2 linked regions of the Homo sapiens genome follow. The protein of the gene in region 1 purifies or fractionates together with the protein of each later gene. This does not show direct contact. Each region holds a gene or a part of one and is shown on either strand. Other genes may lie near its edges.

Region 1 (3,810 bases):
GCTGGCCAGGCGGGGATGGAGAGGCTTCTGCAGGAAGGACAGGGGCTTGGCTGAGCAGAGTGTGGCCAGCCTAGCGGGGGACAGCCTGCATCCTGGCCTCACTGGTCTTGAGGTGCCCAAGCCAGGGGCCCAGGACTTTGGGCATTACTAGGAAATGATGGGAACCCTGGGTGGGGTGGCGTGAAACAAGATGAGATGGTAAGATCTGCTTTCACTTTAAAGGAACATTTCTGGTTGTTGCTTGGAAAAGAAGTGTCGGGGCAAGAATGCTACAGGAGGGCCGGCCTGGAGGACAGGGCGGGACTGCAGGGCTGGCTGTGCGGGGGCAGGAGCCTGTGCTTGCATCAGAGCTGCCTGGGAGACCCTGGCTCTGGGGTGGAGGCCTGAGTAAGGGGGCCTCGCTGGGGATTTGGGGACCTCTGTGTGCTGGTGCCTTCCCGCCTCCGTTCCTCTCAGCCCTGACTGGCTCTGTCTTGGAACCAGGTAACTACCTTTATTTGAGAACCTGCTGCAAGCCCTGGGCTGTTCTGAGAGCTCAGGAATATCGTTCTGATTTCTCCACCCACAAGGAGCCCCGGGCTTCCTGAGCCCTTGGGACACAGCAGCCCCATAAACTGCTGCCCCTCCCAGGCCCAAGTGTTCCACCCCAGGCTAGGGGTGGGGCTGGGGCTGCACCTTGGAATCTACCCTCCACCGGGGTTGTGGTGGGGCCCTCCGTGCAGCCTCAGTGGGAACGTGCCTGTCACCTGAGGCTCAGGTGGCGTGACCCTGACCTTTGCTCTCCCCCTCCTTCCCACAGGTCCTGCACCTCAGCTGCGGAGAGGGATGGCAGTGGTGAGTGAGAGGCTGCCGCGCAGGAACAGACTCCCTCCCGACTCCGCACACCCCTTGGTGGCTCAGGAGAGTCTAGGCTGGGGCACAAGTGGGCCTTGGGGTGACGTCGGAGCCCGGGCTCCTCCCTATGTCCAGGGCACCTGCCCTGTCGCTCTGGGCTCTGACATACTCGCAAGTGTCTGGGGAGACGCCCTGCTCCTTTTTCATGGCCTCCTGGTGGACCTAGGCCTTTGTTAAGGAGACTGCCGTCCTGGCCTCATGAGGAGGCTTAGCCAGGGGGATGCAGCACTCCAGGTGGAAGAGCCGCGGTGTAGACAGGAGGGTGGGCTTGGGGATGGGAACCATGGGGCAGTGCAGTGCCAGGGCCAGGCTGGCAAGGCCACTATGCTTGGAGCCCTCCTGAGGGCAGGGGCCCTGGGCTATTGGTGTGTGGGTGCTGGGGGTGGGTGTTTGGAGCTGTGCTCAGGCCGTGCATTCGCTATTCCAGGCACGAATAAGCGGGACAAGCAATACCAGGCCCACTGGGCCTTCGGGGACCGCAGGAATGGTGTCATCAGTGCCCGCACCTACTTCTACGCCAATGAGGCCAAGTGCGACAGCCACATGGAGACATTCTTGCGCTGCATCGAAGCCTCAGGTGGGGCCCCCTCTTTGCTGGCTATACCCCTGCCATGTCCCAGCCTGAGCGGACCCCTGGGCTCATGGAGGTGCCGGTGGGTGAACACTAAGCTGGGGCAGGAGCCAGAGGGCTGGGTTCTGACCACACTTGGGTCCCTCACTGTTCAGCCCCTTCCTGAGGGGCCCCACTGCCTCCCAGAAGGCATCTCCTCTCCTGCCCCAGCTCCCTGTTCCCTGATCCCGCCTCATGCCCCCCACCCTTCTCCCTGGCTCAGGGCCAGGATCGGGAGCTGCAGGAAGTTGGTCCATGTCAGCTGCCGAGCCACACTTAGCCCAGGGTGGAGGTTCCATTCAGGGAGCTGGTGCCGCATCTTCTGTCCTTCCCTGACACAGCCTCTGGGGGCCAGCGGTGGGGGCAGCAGGTGTTTCCAGGGATAGAGAAGCCAGAGGTCAGCAAGGCCCAATGTCCTTCAGTGTTAGAAACATCCGACCTGCACAGCCCCATGCTGGCCCCAGCAGCCCTCCGTCAGGGGCAGCGGGTCCCAGGCCTGTTTATGTTTTTGTTTGTTTGCTTCAAATGAGACTGGATCTTGCTCTGTCACCCAGGCTGGAGTGCTCACGCCTCTAATCCCAGCAATTTGGGAGGCCAAGGCGGGTGGATTGCCTGAGCTCAGTTCAAGACCAGCCTGGGCAACATGGTGAAACTCCGTCTCCACTAAAATACAAAAAATTAGCCGGGCGTGGCAGCAGGCGCTTGTAATCCCAGCTACTTGGGAGGCTGAGACAGGAGAATCACTTGAATCCAGGAGGCGGAGGTTGCAGTGAGCCAAGATTGCGCCACTGCACTCCAGCCTGGGCGACAGAGTGAGACTCCATCTCAAAAAAAAAAAAAAAAAATGAGGTCTCACTATGTTGCCCTGGTTGGCCTGGAACTCCTGGGCTCAAGTGATCCCTCCACCTTGGCCTCCCAAAGTGCTGGGATTACAGGCACACACTACCACACCCAGCTAATTTTCATATTTTTTGTAGAGATGGTGTTTCACCATGTTGCCCAGGCTGGTCTCAAACTCCTGGCCTCAAGCGAACCTTACACTTTGGCCTCCCAAAGTGCTGGGATTATAGGTGCATGCCGCTGCACCTGGCACTTCTGAGCAGTGCTTGGAAGCCGCCTCCTGATGGGGGCTGAGGGTCAGAGTGGCCAGCTGAATGCTGGGCCATCAGGGTGAGGGGCGTCTTCTCCTCGTCCATTGCCTGTTCTCCCAGGGCAGGTGGAAGGGGAAGGCCCTGCATTGGGGTGGCGTGAAACAAGATGAGATGGTAAGATCTGCTTTCACTTTAAAGGAACATTTCTGGTTGTTGCTTGGAAAGAAGTGTCAGGGGCAAGAATGCTGCAGGAGGGCTGGCCTGGAGGACAGGGTGGGACTGCGGGCTGGCTGCACGGGGGCAGGAGCCTGCGCTTGCGTCAGAGGTTCCTGAGAGACTCGGTCTCTGGGGCAGAGGCCTGAGCAAGGGGACCTCGCTGGGGTGTCTCTGTCTTAGCCACGCTCGGTGTTTCTGGGTCCTGTGACCCACGTGTGAGCAGCCTGTGGTGCTGGTGGCACAGGGAAGGAAACCGAGGCAGGGAGCCTGTGGGGGCTGCTTGGCAGGGGACAGGCAGCTCCTGTGCCCACTGCTGTCCCACACCTGCATGGAAACAGAAACCCCGCCACGGAGCCCCCTCCCATCTCCACAGGGCCTCTAGAGCGCCATGTGCAAGGACTTCATGGGCGGGGTGGGGTGGGGTCAGGAGCCTGCTGTGGGCTGGCCAGGCCCTGGCCCTCCCTGTCGCACCCTGCGCTGCCTCCATGCACCTCTCAGGGCTGTCATGGCTTTTCCTGTGGCTTCTGACAGGTAGAGTCAGCGATGACGGCTTCATAGCCATTAAGCTCACAGCACTGGGGAGACCCCAGTTTCTGGTAAGTGCTAGAACCTTCCACCTGCAGAGTCTGGTGCTGTGCGAGATCTCAGGGCAGCTGTGGGCATCCACCAAAAACACAGGTGCCCATGCCTTAGAGGCCTGAGCTGGCCACAGGGGCTGTGTGGGGGACTGGGGTGGGCAGGGGCGTGTGCAGATGGCATTCAGGCCTGCGTTTGCAGCTGCAGTTCTCAGAGGTGCTGGCCAAGTGGAGGTGCTTCTTTCACCAAATGGCTGTGGAGCAAGGGCAGGCGGGCCTGGCTGCCATGGACACCAAGCTGGAGGTGGCGGTGCTGCAGGTGGGGCAGCCTTCCCCTTCCCCACTCCTGTGGCTTGTGAGGGGGTGGGCACCGTGGGGTCACACGGGGCATGGTGGGCAGTGGTCGGAGGTGGTTTTGGGAACT
Region 2 (3,810 bases), on another chromosome or scaffold:
CATCATAAAGTAGGTATTGCATTGCTATCAGTGGATACAGATGCTTAGCTCTTAAAAGAATTTTTTTTGGCCAGACGCAGTGGCTCACGCCTGTAATCCCAGCACTTTGGGAGGTTGAGGGTGGATCACGAGGTCAGGAGATCGAGACCATCTTGGTTAACATGGTGAAAACCCATCTCTACTAAAAATACAAAAAATTAGCTAGGCGTTGTGGTGGGCACCTGTAGTCCCAGCTACTCGGGAGGCTGAGGCAGGAGAATGGCGTGAACCCGGGAGGCGGAGCTTGCAGTGAGCCGAGATTGTGCCACTGCACTCCAGCCTGGGCGACAGAGCGAGACTCTGTCTCAAAAAAAACAAATTAAAAAAAAAAAAAAAGAATTCTTTTTAATGTAAACTGTTGAATATTTGAAATAGCCCACTTCACCTTAATGGGTCTTGTGTATCTTCATTTGTCTTCAAAGAAAAACCATTTGCTACCAAAGTAAATCAGTATTTCGAATGTGCTTCTCTTGTTTTTTGTTTATTAGCTAGTTGCTGTAAGCATTTCCACCAGAACTTGAGCCAAATCATAAGGAAGCTGTTTCTTTTAAAATACAAACCACCACCAAAAAATTAAATGTACATATTAAGCATTTGACTATTTTTATTTTTTTAAAAAGTATAAACACCAAAAAAAAAAAAATTAACATTGTATGAAGATGGAAAACAAGAAGATACACTTTCTGTAACTTTGTCTGAGGATTTAAATTACTAACTTGTGAATCCAATTTAAATTGAACTTAACTACTGGCTTCCCCCACACCCCGCCCCGACCCAGACGGAGTCTTGCTCTGTCGCCCAGGCTGGAGTGCATTGGAGCAGTCTCGGCTCACTGCAGCCTATGCCTCCCAGGTTCAAGTGATTCTCCTGCCTCAGCCTCCTGAGTAGCTGGGATTACAGGTATGCACCACCATGCCCAGCTAATTTTTGTGTTCTTAGTAGAGATGGGGTTTCACCACGTTGGCCAGGCTGGTCTCAAACTCTTGACCTCGTGATCCGCCTGCCTTGGCCTCCCAAAGTGCTGGGATTACGGGTGTGAGCCACCGTGCCAGCCCCAGCTTTCTTACTAGTAAAATTACATGGTTGATTTTAAATGTATACATGTTGACCAATGGCCTCTCAAAAAGCACATTTTAGATACTGGAGTAGAAGGAAAGAAAATGCATCTTCAAACATTTTTTTGGAATCTCACCACATATACTTTGTGAGATTTGTATATTGTAGGGTGTTAGTTTTTGTATTTTTGTATTGTGTATGAGCTTTTTTTTTTTTTTTTTTTTTTTGAGACGGAGTTTCACTCTGTCTCCCAGGCTGGAGTGCAGTGGTGTGATCTCAGCTCACTGCATCCTCTACCTCCTGGGTTCAAGAAATTCTCTGCCTCATCCTCCCAAGTAACTGGGATTACAGGCACCCACGACCACACCCGGCTAATTTTTTGTGTTTTTAGTGGAGACAGGGTTTCACCCTCTTGGCCAGGCTGATCTTGAACTCCTGACCTTGTGATCCACCCGCCTCGGCCTCCCAAAGTGCTGGACTTAACAGGCGTGAGCCACCCCGCCCGGCATCTTTTTTAATGTGACAGTTAAACACATCTTTAAAAGCATAGTCACAGACAAAAGAAGCATACAGTATAAACATTTCCTTGAAAACTCCTACAATATTATATTTGGAGGCAGCTTCAGACTGTTTTATTGGTGGTAACTGCTCGCTGAGCTCTTTTAGTTGGTAATAACTCCAGAGAAGCATCCTGTGTATATTCCTAACACTTGTTCACTAGCATTTAAGTTTAGAATGAGCCCCAAGTAAAACAATGGAAATGTATATAGAACTCTTAGTTCTTACATGATTTAATTATATCAAAATACATGAATTTAACTTACTTTAATGTAGGCAAACTATCAATTTTTGTCCATTTTCCTGTTTGTTAACATACCTCTCCTAGATATTCTTTTCTTGACCCAAATGAAATATTAACCTAAGGTCAAGCTGGGAGAGAGAAACAACTGAGATGAATGTCTTTACTAAAATACCGATAAATTTGTCAAACTCAAAAAAAAATTGACGTGATAAAATTGGGCATCCTTTGTGCTGGCTGCTGCACGAGGCCTCAGTTTTAGAGATTCCTTTCTTAAATGAACGTGGCTTCTTGAGAGATTTCCTGTAAGTATCTACTCTTCAGGGACTGTAGGTTAATGTGCTTTTTCTCTGTCCATAAGTGTGTGCTCCCTGACCTTTGCCTAAGTAATTCTTTCTCGTCTTCTGGCTGGAAGCGTCAAGTCAAGCACTGTCTTAGGAATGCCTTTCCTGACCATCTAGACTGTCATGCCCCCTAATTCACACCCTGTTGTGGCTTCCTGTACTGTTTGCTTTTTAATTTGATTTTTGTCTCTCCCTCCACTAGATTCTAAACTCTGTGGGGGCAGGAGCTGACTGTTTTTTGGACTTAACGTATCTGTTTTTGCTCACCACTGTTCCACACCTAGAACAGTGTCTGTCTGCTGCACATAGCAGGGGCTCAATCTCTATCTGTACAATGAGGGAATAAAGAAAAATCAGTGTTGTTGGTGCTGTCATCACTGAGTAGAAAGTGTTAAGTTATAACTTACTCTATGGAAAAATCCTTCAGGTCCAGCTATTCTTTTGTTCCTTTGTGTTCTATTATAGTCGTAGACACTTAGAGCTTGAGCTAGGAGTCTGGTCACATTTGAGATTTATATGTTAAGGTTTTGACAGCAGTCTCCCTTCCTGGAATGTCAGTTCTGTAAGGGCAGAGATCTTTGTTTTGTTCACCGCTGTACTCCCAGTACCTGGCACAGTGCTGGAACACAGGAGGTACTCCATCCCTGTTTCTTGAATGAATGAATAAATGAATGAAAATATTACCAATTTAAATTACTTGCTTAGAGTAATGATATTGAGGATATCCTGCCAGGAGTCAAAAAAGCAACTAGAAAACTATTATTAAAAGAAGAAAGGCCTGGCACAGTGGCTCATGCCTGTAGTCCCAGCTACTGGGGAGCCTGAGGTGGGCAGATCTCTTGAGCCTGGGAGGTCAAGGCTGTAATGAGCCATGATTGCGCCACTGGGCTCCAGCGTGGGTGACAGAGAGCGAGACCCTGTCTCAGAAAAAAGAAGGAAAAATAAAGTATTGCTGGTAGATGAAGAGTGAGGCTTATGTGAGGTGTTTCCTGTAGGGCGCCAGCCTCCCAGTGATGGACCTGACTGAACTCCCCAAGTGCACGGTGTGTCTGGAGCGCATGGACGAGTCTGTGAATGGCATCCTCACAACGTTATGTAACCACAGCTTCCACAGCCAGTGTCTACAGCGCTGGGACGATACCACGTGAGTGCAGGGGCCGAACCCCTCTGTGTACAAGCCCATTGCAACCCTTCCAGAATTAAAAAGAGCCACCAGCAGAAATGAACCATTCCAAGTATTTGACTTTATTCAAGAGGTCCTTTTTCTCCTTCCCTTTCCTAAGTTCAGGGAATCGGCATTCTGAGACCAAGTCCTTTTTTAGTATGCTGATTCTGAACCCTTGTGGAATTCCCCAAAGCAGCATGAGTTGTTCTTTCCTTCCAAGAGCCAGAGAGTGAAAAAAAAAAGCAAAGCTTAGTTTGAGGCTCTCGTGCTGCAGTGAAATCTAGGTCTGGAATCTCATGTATCAGCTGCACTTGGTGTCTGCCATTCACTCTGGGCTTCTTATCAACTGGGCTACAGCAGCCTAATATTTTAGCTTTGCTGGGCTGTTGATGGCTTGGTGGCCAGTA

Evidence for each region.
Region 2: the proteins of PRODH (region 1) and BRAP purify together in Homo sapiens (affinity purification with mass spectrometry; 2 studies listed by BioGRID and IntAct, with this or other methods). This does not show direct contact.

Annotation. Positions count from the first base shown.
Region 1 is NC_000022.11:18,922,712-18,926,521, reverse strand, and holds part of PRODH (proline dehydrogenase 1, mitochondrial isoform 1 precursor), read left to right. Parts: intron 1-799; coding exon 800-834; intron 835-1,321; coding exon 1,322-1,471; intron 1,472-3,342; coding exon 3,343-3,407; intron 3,408-3,588; coding exon 3,589-3,705; intron 3,706-3,810. UniProt on the Homo sapiens protein: Converts proline to delta-1-pyrroline-5-carboxylate.
Region 2 is NC_000012.12:111,665,211-111,669,020, reverse strand, and holds part of BRAP (BRCA1-associated protein), read left to right. Parts: exon of another isoform or gene 1-63; intron 64-381; exon of another isoform or gene 382-786; intron 787-1,093; exon of another isoform or gene 1,094-1,301; intron 1,302-1,605; exon of another isoform or gene 1,606-2,090; intron 2,091-3,233; coding exon 3,234-3,382; intron 3,383-3,810. UniProt on the Homo sapiens protein: Negatively regulates MAP kinase activation by limiting the formation of Raf/MEK complexes probably by inactivation of the KSR1 scaffold protein.